4 separate regions of the Homo sapiens genome follow, and regions 2, 3 and 4 are each linked to region 1. The links come from fine-mapping of genetic effects on gene expression. A gene starts in region 1. Each other region holds a variant in brackets. All regions are shown on one strand. Distances are from middle to middle.

Region 1 (2,607 bases):
TTTGGTAGCACAATAGGGTAAATACAGTTAACAATAATTTATATTTCACAATAAAGGAGTGGATTTGGAATGTTCCCAACATAAATGATAAATGATAAATGTTTGAGGTGATGGATACCCCAATTACCCTGATTTGATCATTACACATTGTATGTTTGTATCAAAATATATGTACCCCATAAATATGTACAACTATTGTGTATCCATAAAAATTAGAAATAAACTATATATATAAAAACTATATGGATATATATATAAACAAACTATATATGGATATATATATATCCATATCCTTCCACACACATATCCATATCCACACACATATCCATATCCACTGCTACCACTCTGTCTCATATATATATGTATATATGTATATATATATGTATATATATGTATGTGTATATATATATATATATGAGAGAGTGTCAATAATTGGTAAGTGTAGATGAAGAGTATATGGATATTTTATGATACTATTTTTTTTCCAAATAGTTGGGAAAAAAGAAAAGGAAGGGGCGAAAGGATAATTTAATTTCCTAATTGTATTTTCTTAGGCTATTGTTAAATGAATTATAGCTAAGCAGTGAAAACAAAACATTTATTCGGGTATGGTTTTATATTTAGGAGTGAATCAAGTTACTAGTGACTCAACTGTAAGAATTATTAAATTGGTAATGCAGTTTTCGTTGCTTGTTAGAGAGACTTCTCATACTTTATGGTTTATGCTTTGGAAGCAAATAAGCTCTAGAGGAAATGGAACAGGTATGTATTAAGGAATTTAAGTTTTTGCTGTAAGTTTGGAAATACTTAACAAATTCTAACTTTTCATTATCACAAGCCTTTTAAAATTACCTGTGATGATAGGTATCTATAAAAGTAATTATATTGATTTATCCCTTTTTTCTAGGTTAAAAAAATAAGTATGTTTTATTGGTGGTAGCTAAGTGGATCTAGTTGATAAAGGTGGAGATATAAATATATTGGTGTAAAAGGACAAATATGAGATAAGACTATGTATTTATTGCCCATTTATGTAATTGCATGTGTCACTAAGGACAAAGGTCCTTAAAGACGAAAAGCAGAGTAGAAACAGTTCCTTATATTAAGACAGATGAATTTGCTACCTCTTCCCTCTTCATGAATTTTTTTTAAATGTATGGTTGTATATCCTTCCAGTTTTATAATCACATTTGAAAACTCAACCATCTTTCTGGGCACAATTTGATGGCTGAAGATATGCTTCACTCCAATAAAAAGAAAATGAAGATTTTTCAAGAGCATTCGTAGGCTTCGAATCAAAAGGACAGTACTTATTTCCTGAGGTCTGATAACCGTTGTTTTATGAGGAAATAGTACTAGGATCACAGTACCATGGATGTGGTAGGCGAAAATGAGGCCCTGCAGCAGTTCTTTGAAGGTAAGAGGCCAATTTCCAGCATGAATTTGCTGCTTCTGAGAAATGCTCACTATCCCTGTTTCACCTTTTCCGTATTCACTTAAACTTTGTTTTGAAAGAAATGCTATCATACTTAGGTAACTCTCCTAATATCAAAAGTAGGGGTTTATTTGCTACATTGGGAGCAAAATTCAATGGTATGGATAGAGATTTTAAACAAAACAGGATTTTCATCTTATAGTTTGGTTGTTAGAATCAAGGGGTCAGCATATTTATGTTGTTATTACTTGTCCCTGTCCTGTACTAGATTTTATTTTTTCCCATGCCCTATGTTTAAAAAAACTACATAGCCATGCTCAAATTCCATGTGAAGGGAAACGTGACCATCATTTTTACACGGTAAGGTATTTTGCATGAGGGAGTATGAGAAGAAGTGAGGGAAGACCTGCTCATTTACAGAATCTAGGGATCAGTCAGCAGCACATCGAGAAAAGTGCTTTAGGTATTTCTTGTGCTTTGTAAAGTGCCTGACAAATAATATATATTTAAAAGTTGAATGGAATGGGCTGAATAGTAAACAATGCTGAACACTAAAGAGTGACGGGGCGTACCAAAGAAATAGTGAGATTCTATGTCACTATTGGGAGGAATCAACACCATGGGGTAGTTTCTGTGGCTTGGGTTTTTCCAGAAATGGCAAGAAGAAACATAAGACCAAGAGAATTATCACATTATCTTGTCCTACCATCCATCCCATTGAGTGTTCTGTCTCTGACAGTGGCCAAGTTGGTATTGTCTACCTGGGTCATGCTTGGCACATGGTAGGCACACTAGTGTTGCTAGACTGTTATTGCCTGATTTTATATCATATATAATTTTCGTTTGAGCAGCAGGTGGCAAGCTTCAATCTACCATTGCATCTATTTTAGAGAAACCAGCAATTTATTGTATACATGCAAAAATCTACTCCATTTCCTTCTAGAGCTAGGGAAGACCTGAATATCGAATTTGGTCTACCTTCTGTTTTTTGAAAGAGCTTTTATTTCTATGGGATCCCTATACTGTCCTTGTTTATACTATTTTTGGAGGTTTCTATGGATATAGTTTCTACAAGTCCCCTCTACAGCTTGTTACAATTATCTGATCATTATTATAAAAGTATTTGTCTTCAGTGTTTTTCTTACATTATCTGTGAATAGTTGGAAAAGGTG
Region 2 (2,616 bases), 150 kb after region 1:
TAATATAGCTGTTAATTACATTCAGTCTCAAATTTAACAATCTTTCCCGGGGTTGAGACAGTTTTGTATATGTAGATGTGTTAATCGTTCATTCTCATGCTGCTATAAGGACATACCCGAGACTGGGTAATTTATAAAGGAAAGAGGTTCAATTGACTCACAGTTGCGCATGGCTGGGGAGGCCTCAGGAAACTTACAATCATGGCAGAAGGGGAAGCCAAGATGTCCTTTTTCACAAGGTGGCAAGAGAGAGAAGTGCGGAGCAAAGGGGGAAAAGCCCTTTATAAAAACTATCAGATCTCATAAGAACTCACGCACTATCCCGAGAACAGCATGAGGGTAACCACCCCCATGATTCAATTAGCCCCCACCAGTCCCTCTCACCACCCGTGGGGATTATGGAAACTGCAATTCATGATGAGACACAGCCATACCATATCAGTAGGCTTGCATTTTATTGGTTGTCTTCCCTTGAAAACAATAAGGGATTTTATTAGGCAATGACTTTCTCAAGTGGTCCATTCCTGAGCAAAGGGAACTGCTCTCCAGGAATAACCCACTTGGCCACATGATGGGCATCTGCTCCCCAAAACCTAGGGAGCTCATCAGGACCCAGGGAAGGAGGATTATGGAAAACTCTGAGAGGGGCCCATTTCTTTCTTTTCTTTTCTTTTCTTTTTTTTTTTTGAGACGGAGTCCCACTCTGTTGCCCAGGCTGGAGTGCAGTGGTGCGATCTCGGCTCACTGCAAGCTCCACCTCCCGGGTTCACACCATTCTCTTACCTCAGCCTCCCACGTAGCTGGGACTACAGGTGCCCACCACCTTGCCCAGCTAATTTTTTGTATTTTTAGTAGAGACGGGGTTTCACCGTGTTAGCCAGGATGGTCTCGATCTCCTGACCTCGTGATCCACCCGCCTCGGCCTCCCAAAGTGCTGGGGGCCCATTTCTTTAAATTTGGCCATGATGTATTTCCTTGGCAGAATATGAAAAAAGTCCAAAATTTCAACACACTACATTTGTTTGGTTCTTTAGAATAGGGCTTCTCAAACGTTAATGTGCACACAATCACCTGGTGATCTTGTGGAAATGCAGACTCTATTTCAGTGGGTCTGGGGTGGGGCCTGAGAACGTGCCTTTCCAACAAAGTCCTGGATGCTGTTGATGCTGCTGGCATGAGACACACCCTGAGGAGCAAGACTTTCAAGTTTGGCAAGTGTTTTCCTATGTCATCTCACTCAGTCCTCATGACAAGCCTGTGAGGTACCTGACACATCCCCACTTCCAGCAGTAGAGGCAGGTTCCATGAGGTAAACAGACTTGCTTCGGGTTGCACAGCAGGTACGACTTACTCTCAGACATCTGAATCCGCGTCCTGTGATTTTTCTCCCACACAACTGTGCCTCCTCTGCGTACATCTTGGCCCATAACGCTTCTCAGGAAGATGCTCCAAATCAGGGTTTTTGTTTTCAGAGAGCTTCTTCATCAGCACACCACTGCATTTTTTCCCATTCCCCATATCTTGTTAGATGGGTTCTTTTATGTTGCTTGTCAGTATGTTTAGGTGGTGATTGTCATCCAACATTCTTGCTATCCCTCTCCACTTTATACTATCCACAAGTAGATATAAAATGTCTAGTTTCTCTTATTTGAATTATAAATACAAGCTTTTC[T/A]TCGATGTTTGAAGGCTCAAGTATTGATGGATACACAGAGGACTAATCTCTGGGAAGTAATACAGGCAGTATATATAGAGTCAGAGTAAGAGATTAAACATCTTATTGATAATGAGCAGGTAACAAAGTGGGAATCATTATAATAGCATAAGCTGGAAGTTGACAAAAACATACTGGGAAAACACATGGATTCTGGAGTTTTGAATCCTGGTTCTGCCTGACCAAATGTGTGATGTGGGGCTAGTTACCCAACCTCTCTGTGCTTTGATTTCCTTGTATGTTAAAAGGAGATAACATGTTTTTTGTGACAATACATTTCATTAATTCACAACAGTCCCCCACATATATTAAGTGTTCAATAAGTATCAGTGCCTATCCTTATTACCAATTGGATAGTCCAATCTCCTTATTTTTATTTTTTGAGAGAGGATCTCACTCTGTCACCCAGGCTAGAGTGCAGTGGTGGGACCTTGGCTCACTGCAGCCTTGACTTCCCAGGCTCCAGCGATTCTCCCATCTCAGCCTCCTTAGTAGCTGGGACCACAGGTGTGTGCTGGCTCATTTTTGTAATTTTGGTAGAGACGGGGCTTCGCTGAGTTGCCCAGACTGGTCTCAAACTCCTGAGCTCCAGTGATCCACCCACCTCGGCCTTCCAAAGTGCTGGGATTGCAGGCATGAGCCACTGCACCTGGCCAATCTCCTTATTTTTAATATGGAGCCAGAGAAGCCCAAAAAGCTTAAGTGATTTCAACATTCATTAACCAACAGTTTTGGAGCTTTCACTATGTAGCAGATATTTACTAGTTGGTGAGTAGGCAAATGTTATAAGTTGGGAAGTAGTGGAGCTGATAAGTGAACACAAACCCTCTAGTTTCTATTCTATTATGGTAAGTGTGAGTGTATGTCTCCACACTCACTGCTGCTCTTGATCTGCAATTGTTCTT
Region 3 (2,616 bases), 120 kb after region 1:
AGGATCAAATTCATACATAACACTATTAACTTTAAATGTAAATGGACTAAATGCTCCAATTAAAAGACACAGACTGGCAAATTGGATAAAGAGTCAAGACCCATCAGTGTGCTGTATTCAGGAAACCCATCTCATGTGCAGAGACACACATAGGCTCAAAATAAAAGGATGGAGGAAGATCTACCAAGCAAATGGAAAACAAAAAAAGGCAGGGGTTGCAATCCTAGTCTCTGATAAAACAGACTTTAAACCAACAAAGATCAAAAGAGACAAAGAAGGCCATTACATAATGGTAAAGGGATCAATTCAACAAGAAGAGCTAACTATCCTAAATATATATGCACCCAATACAGGAGCACCCAGATTCATAAAGCAAGTCCTGAGTGACCTACAAAGAGACTTAGACTCCCACATATTAATAATGGGAGACTTTAACACCCCACTGTCAACATTAGACAGATCAATGAGACAGAAAGTCAACAAGGATACCCAGGAATTGAACTCAGCTCTGCACCAAGCGGACCTCATAGACATCTACAGAACTCTCCACCCCAAATCAACAGAATATACATTTTTTTCAGCACCACACCACACCTATTCCAAAATTGACCACATAGTTGGAAGTAAAGCTCTCCTCAGCAAATGTAAAAGAACACAAATTATAACAAACTATCTCTCAGACCACAGTGCAATCAAACTAGAACTCAGGATTAAGAATCTCACTCAAAACCGCTCAACTACATGGAAACTGAACAACCTGCTCCTGAATGACTACTGGGTACATAACGAAATGAAGGCAGAAATAAAGATGTTCTTTGAAACCAACGAGAACAAAGACACAACATACCAGAATCTCTGGGACGCATTCAAAGCAGTGTGTAGAGGGAAATTTATAGCACTAAATGCCCACAAGAGAAAGCAGGAAAGATCCAAAATTGACACCCTAACATCACAATTAAAAGAACTAGAAAAGCAAGAGCAAACACATTCAAAAGCTAGCAGAAGGCAAGAAATAACTGAAATCAGAGCAGAACTGAAGGAAATAGAGACACAAAAAACCCTTCAAAAAATTAATGAATCCAGGAGCTGGTTTTTTGAAAGGATCAACAAAATTGATAGACCGCTAGCAAGACTAATAAAGAAAAAAAGACAGAAGAATCAAATAGATGCAATA[A/T]AAAATGATAAAGGGGATATCACCACCGATCCCACAGAAATACAAACTACCATCAGAGAATACTACAAACACCTCTACGCAAATAAACTAGAAAATCTAGAAGAAATGGATAAATTCCTGGACACATACACTCTCCCAAGACTAAACCAGGAAGAAGCTGAATCTCTGAATAGACCAATAACAGGATCTGAAATTGTGGCAATAATCAATAGCTTACCAACCAAAAAGAGTCCAGGACCAGATGGATTCACAGCCGAATTCTACCAGAGGTACAAGGAGGAACTGGTACCATTCCTTCTGAAACTATTCCAATCAATAGAAAAAGAGGGAATCCTCCCTAACTCATTTTATGAGGCCAGCATCATTCTGATACCAAAGCCGGGCAGAGACACAACCAAAAAAGAGAATTTTAGACCAATATCCTTGATGAACACTGATGCAAAAATCCTCAATAAAATACTGGCAAACCGAATCCAGCAGCACATCAAAAAGCTTATCCACCATGATCAAGTGGGCTTCATCCCTGGGATGCAAGGCTGGTTCAATATATGCAAATCAATAAATGTAATCCAGCATATAAACAGAGCCAAAGACAAAAACCACATGATTATCTCAATAGATGCAGAAAAGGCCTTTGACAAAATTCAACAACTTTTCATGCTAAAAACTCTCAATAAATTAGGTATTGATGGGACATATTTCAAAATAATAAGAGCTATCTATGACAAACCCGCAGCCAATATCATACTGAATGGGCAAAAACTGGAAGCATTCCCTTTGAAAACTGGCACAAGACAGGGATGCCCTCTCTCACCAGTCCTATTCAACATAGTGTTGGAAGTTCTGGCCAGGGCAATTAGGCAGGAGAAGGAAATAAAGGGTATTCAAATAGGAAAAGAGGAAGTCAAATTGTCCCTGTTTGCAGATGACATGATTGTATATCTAGAAAACCCCATTGTCTCAGCCCAAAATCTCCTTAAGCTGATAAGCAACTTCAGCAAAGTCTCAGGCTACAAAATCAATGTGCAAAAATCACAAGTATTCCTATACACCAACAACAGACAAACAGCCAAATCATGAGTGAACTCCCATTCACAATTGCTTCAAAGAGAATAAAATACCTAGGAATCCAACTTACAAGGGATGTGAAGGACCTCTTCAAGAAGAACTACAAACCGCTGCTCAAGGAAATAAAAGAGTATACAAACAAATGGAAGAACATTCCATGCTCATGGATAGGAAGAATCAATATCATGAAAATGGCCATACTGCCCAGGGTAATTTACAGATTCAATGCCATCCCCATCAAGCTACCAATGCCTTTCTTCACAGAATTGGAAAAAACTACTTTAAAGTTCATATGGAACGAAAAAACAGCCCGCATCGCCAAGTTAATCCTAAGCCAAAAGAACAAAGCTGGAGGCATCACACTACCTGACTTC
Region 4 (2,616 bases), 110 kb after region 1:
TTGGCATCCACAGCTGACTAGACCTGTGCCGCCTTCCATCTCCCAATGCGACAGTGCCAATGCCCTCCACCGGTGGCACGCAAACTGTGCTCTGACTCTTTCCTGCAAGGAGCAGTTGCCTCCAGCAACTTACATGCTTCCTCTTGTAATCTTCCACTAGTGACAGGCACCTCTGAGACAGCTTGCCAGGGCTGGGGGGCTGCTCTATGTGGAAAAATCCATCAGCATGGAATACCTAGGAGCCTCTGAGCTCTTTTTCTCTCCAGGGCAGAAAAGCATAACTGTGCTGGTTTCCATGGTGTTTCTGTCAGCCGTGGCCATCCCCTCCCCCCTGCTCCCATCTGTGTGGCCTGTGAGAGTACATCTCTGGCCAGCTGGATGTGTGAGATATATCTGGAAACAAATCTGCCACATAATGTTTTTTTTTTTTTTTTTTTTTTTTTTTTTGACAGTGCTTTGACGATAGTTGCCCTCTATATACTTAGCTTAAAAGATCAAGACCGACGTGTCCCAAATCTCCCTCCAAGGTGAGAGTTCAGTTCAATTTTCTGGCCTAAAATTCCTTTGGAGAGAAGGATTTTTGCAGCCCTCTTTCATTAATCATTTCATTCTTTTTCTCCAGCAATATCACAAGCTCACAGGAGCCAGCTCTGCTGCCCACAGCCTCCTCCTCAGGTAAAGGCTTCACATTCCTCACCCTCAAACCCGGTTTCAAGTGAACTGTTAACAGAAGAAACCAGCCTTTCAGGTTAACCTTCTTGCTTCCCCTCCCCCCTGCCCAATGCCTTGCAGCACCTAATACATCCCTGGTAACCACACCGGCCTCCTTACAAGTACCTGAAATTACTTTCTGTGAAATCCTGCCGTGTCAGGAGACTTATTGCTGCCCCATCCGGGGAATGAAAGAAGTCTCTTCAAGTCCTGTGCAAAGACAATCTGAGGAGAAGGAATTCCATCAGAGGCGATGGTCAGGTAAATGATGTTCAAAGAGAAACAACTAGAGCTTTGAACTTGAGGTTGTTTTTCTTGTC[A/G]CAATTTACTTAGATGGTCATTAATGGTTCCAGATAATGGTTCCATGCTTCTATTTGGGGTGGCAAAATCTTTAAAACACAAATACACAACTGCCAATCATCTGTAATATTGAGTTCCTTGCCCAGGAATGAAATTTTGGTTGATTCAAGTACTTATAATTTTCACCAAGTGAAAGGTTCTCATTTGTCCATTGCCAACAAGGATAGTAATAGTAGCACAAGCGAAGTAATTACATGCACGTGGGTGGATTTTTTGGGCTCATTTAGAGTTTAAAAAATGATGTGGTATCTGGGCTCTCTGCCTAAACTGACTAGGGCAAAATGTAAGAGACTTTGGAAACTCTAATTTAGAGTTCAGGGTGAGATTTAAGGCAGTGAAAAACACAAGACTGGCATTCCACTTTCAGAATAACTTTCCTCTTCCTCCTAGGGACACACACACACATACATACATACCAATGTTATTCAAGTAACACAATTTTCATGGTAAAAAAAAGTATAGAAACTTAATCAAGGGCTGCAAGTGTAATCATATCCATAAGATTACATACAAGTCTTCCAAATGTATACTAATTTATTATTGTTTTTAGAAATTTTATTCTATATATACATATTAATAAATAGTAATATTAATGATGATGCTAATAAGGATACATATTACTATGGCTTATTGATTAGGATACTGTCATAACAACAACTCTTAAATAACAGTGGCTTCTTTATGGCAACAATTTAATTCTGAGTCACTCTATATATTAAATGTGAATCAAAAGACAGTTCTTGGTCATCATGTCATTTAAAGTCCAGCTGATGAAGATTCCATCACAATAATTATTTCCACAGTCTCCGTAGTAGTGGTAAAAGAACAAGGCAAATTATGTTCCGACTCTTAAAGCTTCCACCTATGTATAACACATATCACCTCTGCTTATACTTCATTGGCCAAAGCAAGTCACGTCACATTGGTCATGTCTAATTTTTAAACGGATGGGGAAGAACAGATCTAACATGTATGGAGAAGATGAACCAGAATACTTATAAGTGGTGCTCATGACCTACATAGAATATGGTCAGTGGTTGAAATGTTGGGGTGCAATGTAATTTCCTTTCCCTTTTGACATTATTGCATATCCTAGTCTTGGTTAAATAACTTTTACAAATTGTCATCATCATCATGATTATCATGTTGTAATGAGGTATTACTCTACGCTAGGTACTGTCATAAGTAGTTTACATGAGTAAATCATTTAATCTTCACAAGCCTACAAACGAGGTGCTTTTATTATCCCAATTTTTTTTTCCAGTGGGGAAGCTGAGACACAGAGAGTTCTTTCACTACAGCAATAGGAGACAATGAGCTTTTCTCATGAAAACTATTTTTGATTGAACTTAGGAGCAGATGCATCACTATGGAGTAGAACTAAAAACTTCATTTTAAAGAAAGGAATTCATTTCAGTCATCTTATTCTCAATATTTTTAAATATGAAAAAATCTAGAACTATCACAGAAATCCCCAAGGCTTTTATCCCTTGTGAAAGCACATGGAACCTTGTGGCTGGTAAACACTTTTCTTACTTTGGGAGC

Evidence for each region.
Region 2: its variant is fine-mapped to the expression of MYRFL in tibial artery (GTEx, PIP above 0.99).
Region 3: its variant is fine-mapped to the expression of MYRFL in aorta (GTEx, PIP 0.97).
Region 4: its variant is fine-mapped to the expression of MYRFL in unexposed skin (GTEx, PIP above 0.99). The same link has a PIP of 0.9 or more in sun-exposed skin.

Annotation. Positions count from the first base shown.
Region 1 is chr12:69,824,147-69,826,753 of GRCh38, forward strand. MYRFL (myelin regulatory factor like) reads left to right here and starts at 1,081. Exons shown (of 25, transcript NM_182530.3): 1 at 1,081-1,417. The coding sequence starts at 1,372.
Region 2 is chr12:69,971,121-69,973,736 of GRCh38, forward strand. No RefSeq gene overlaps it. Among named protein-coding and RNA genes, the nearest start is that of MYRFL, 150 kb to the left of the region's middle. The variant T/A (reference allele first, on the strand shown) is at 1,673.
Region 3 is chr12:69,940,661-69,943,276 of GRCh38, forward strand. The region is part of intron 19 of MYRFL (myelin regulatory factor like); the gene reads left to right. Among named protein-coding and RNA genes, the nearest start is that of MYRFL, 120 kb to the left of the region's middle. The variant A/T (reference allele first, on the strand shown) is at 1,175.
Region 4 is chr12:69,935,661-69,938,276 of GRCh38, forward strand. MYRFL (myelin regulatory factor like) reads left to right here. Exons shown (of 25, transcript NM_182530.3): 17 at 453-527; 18 at 623-675; 19 at 793-972. Among named protein-coding and RNA genes, the nearest start is that of MYRFL, 110 kb to the left of the region's middle. The variant A/G (reference allele first, on the strand shown) is at 1,032.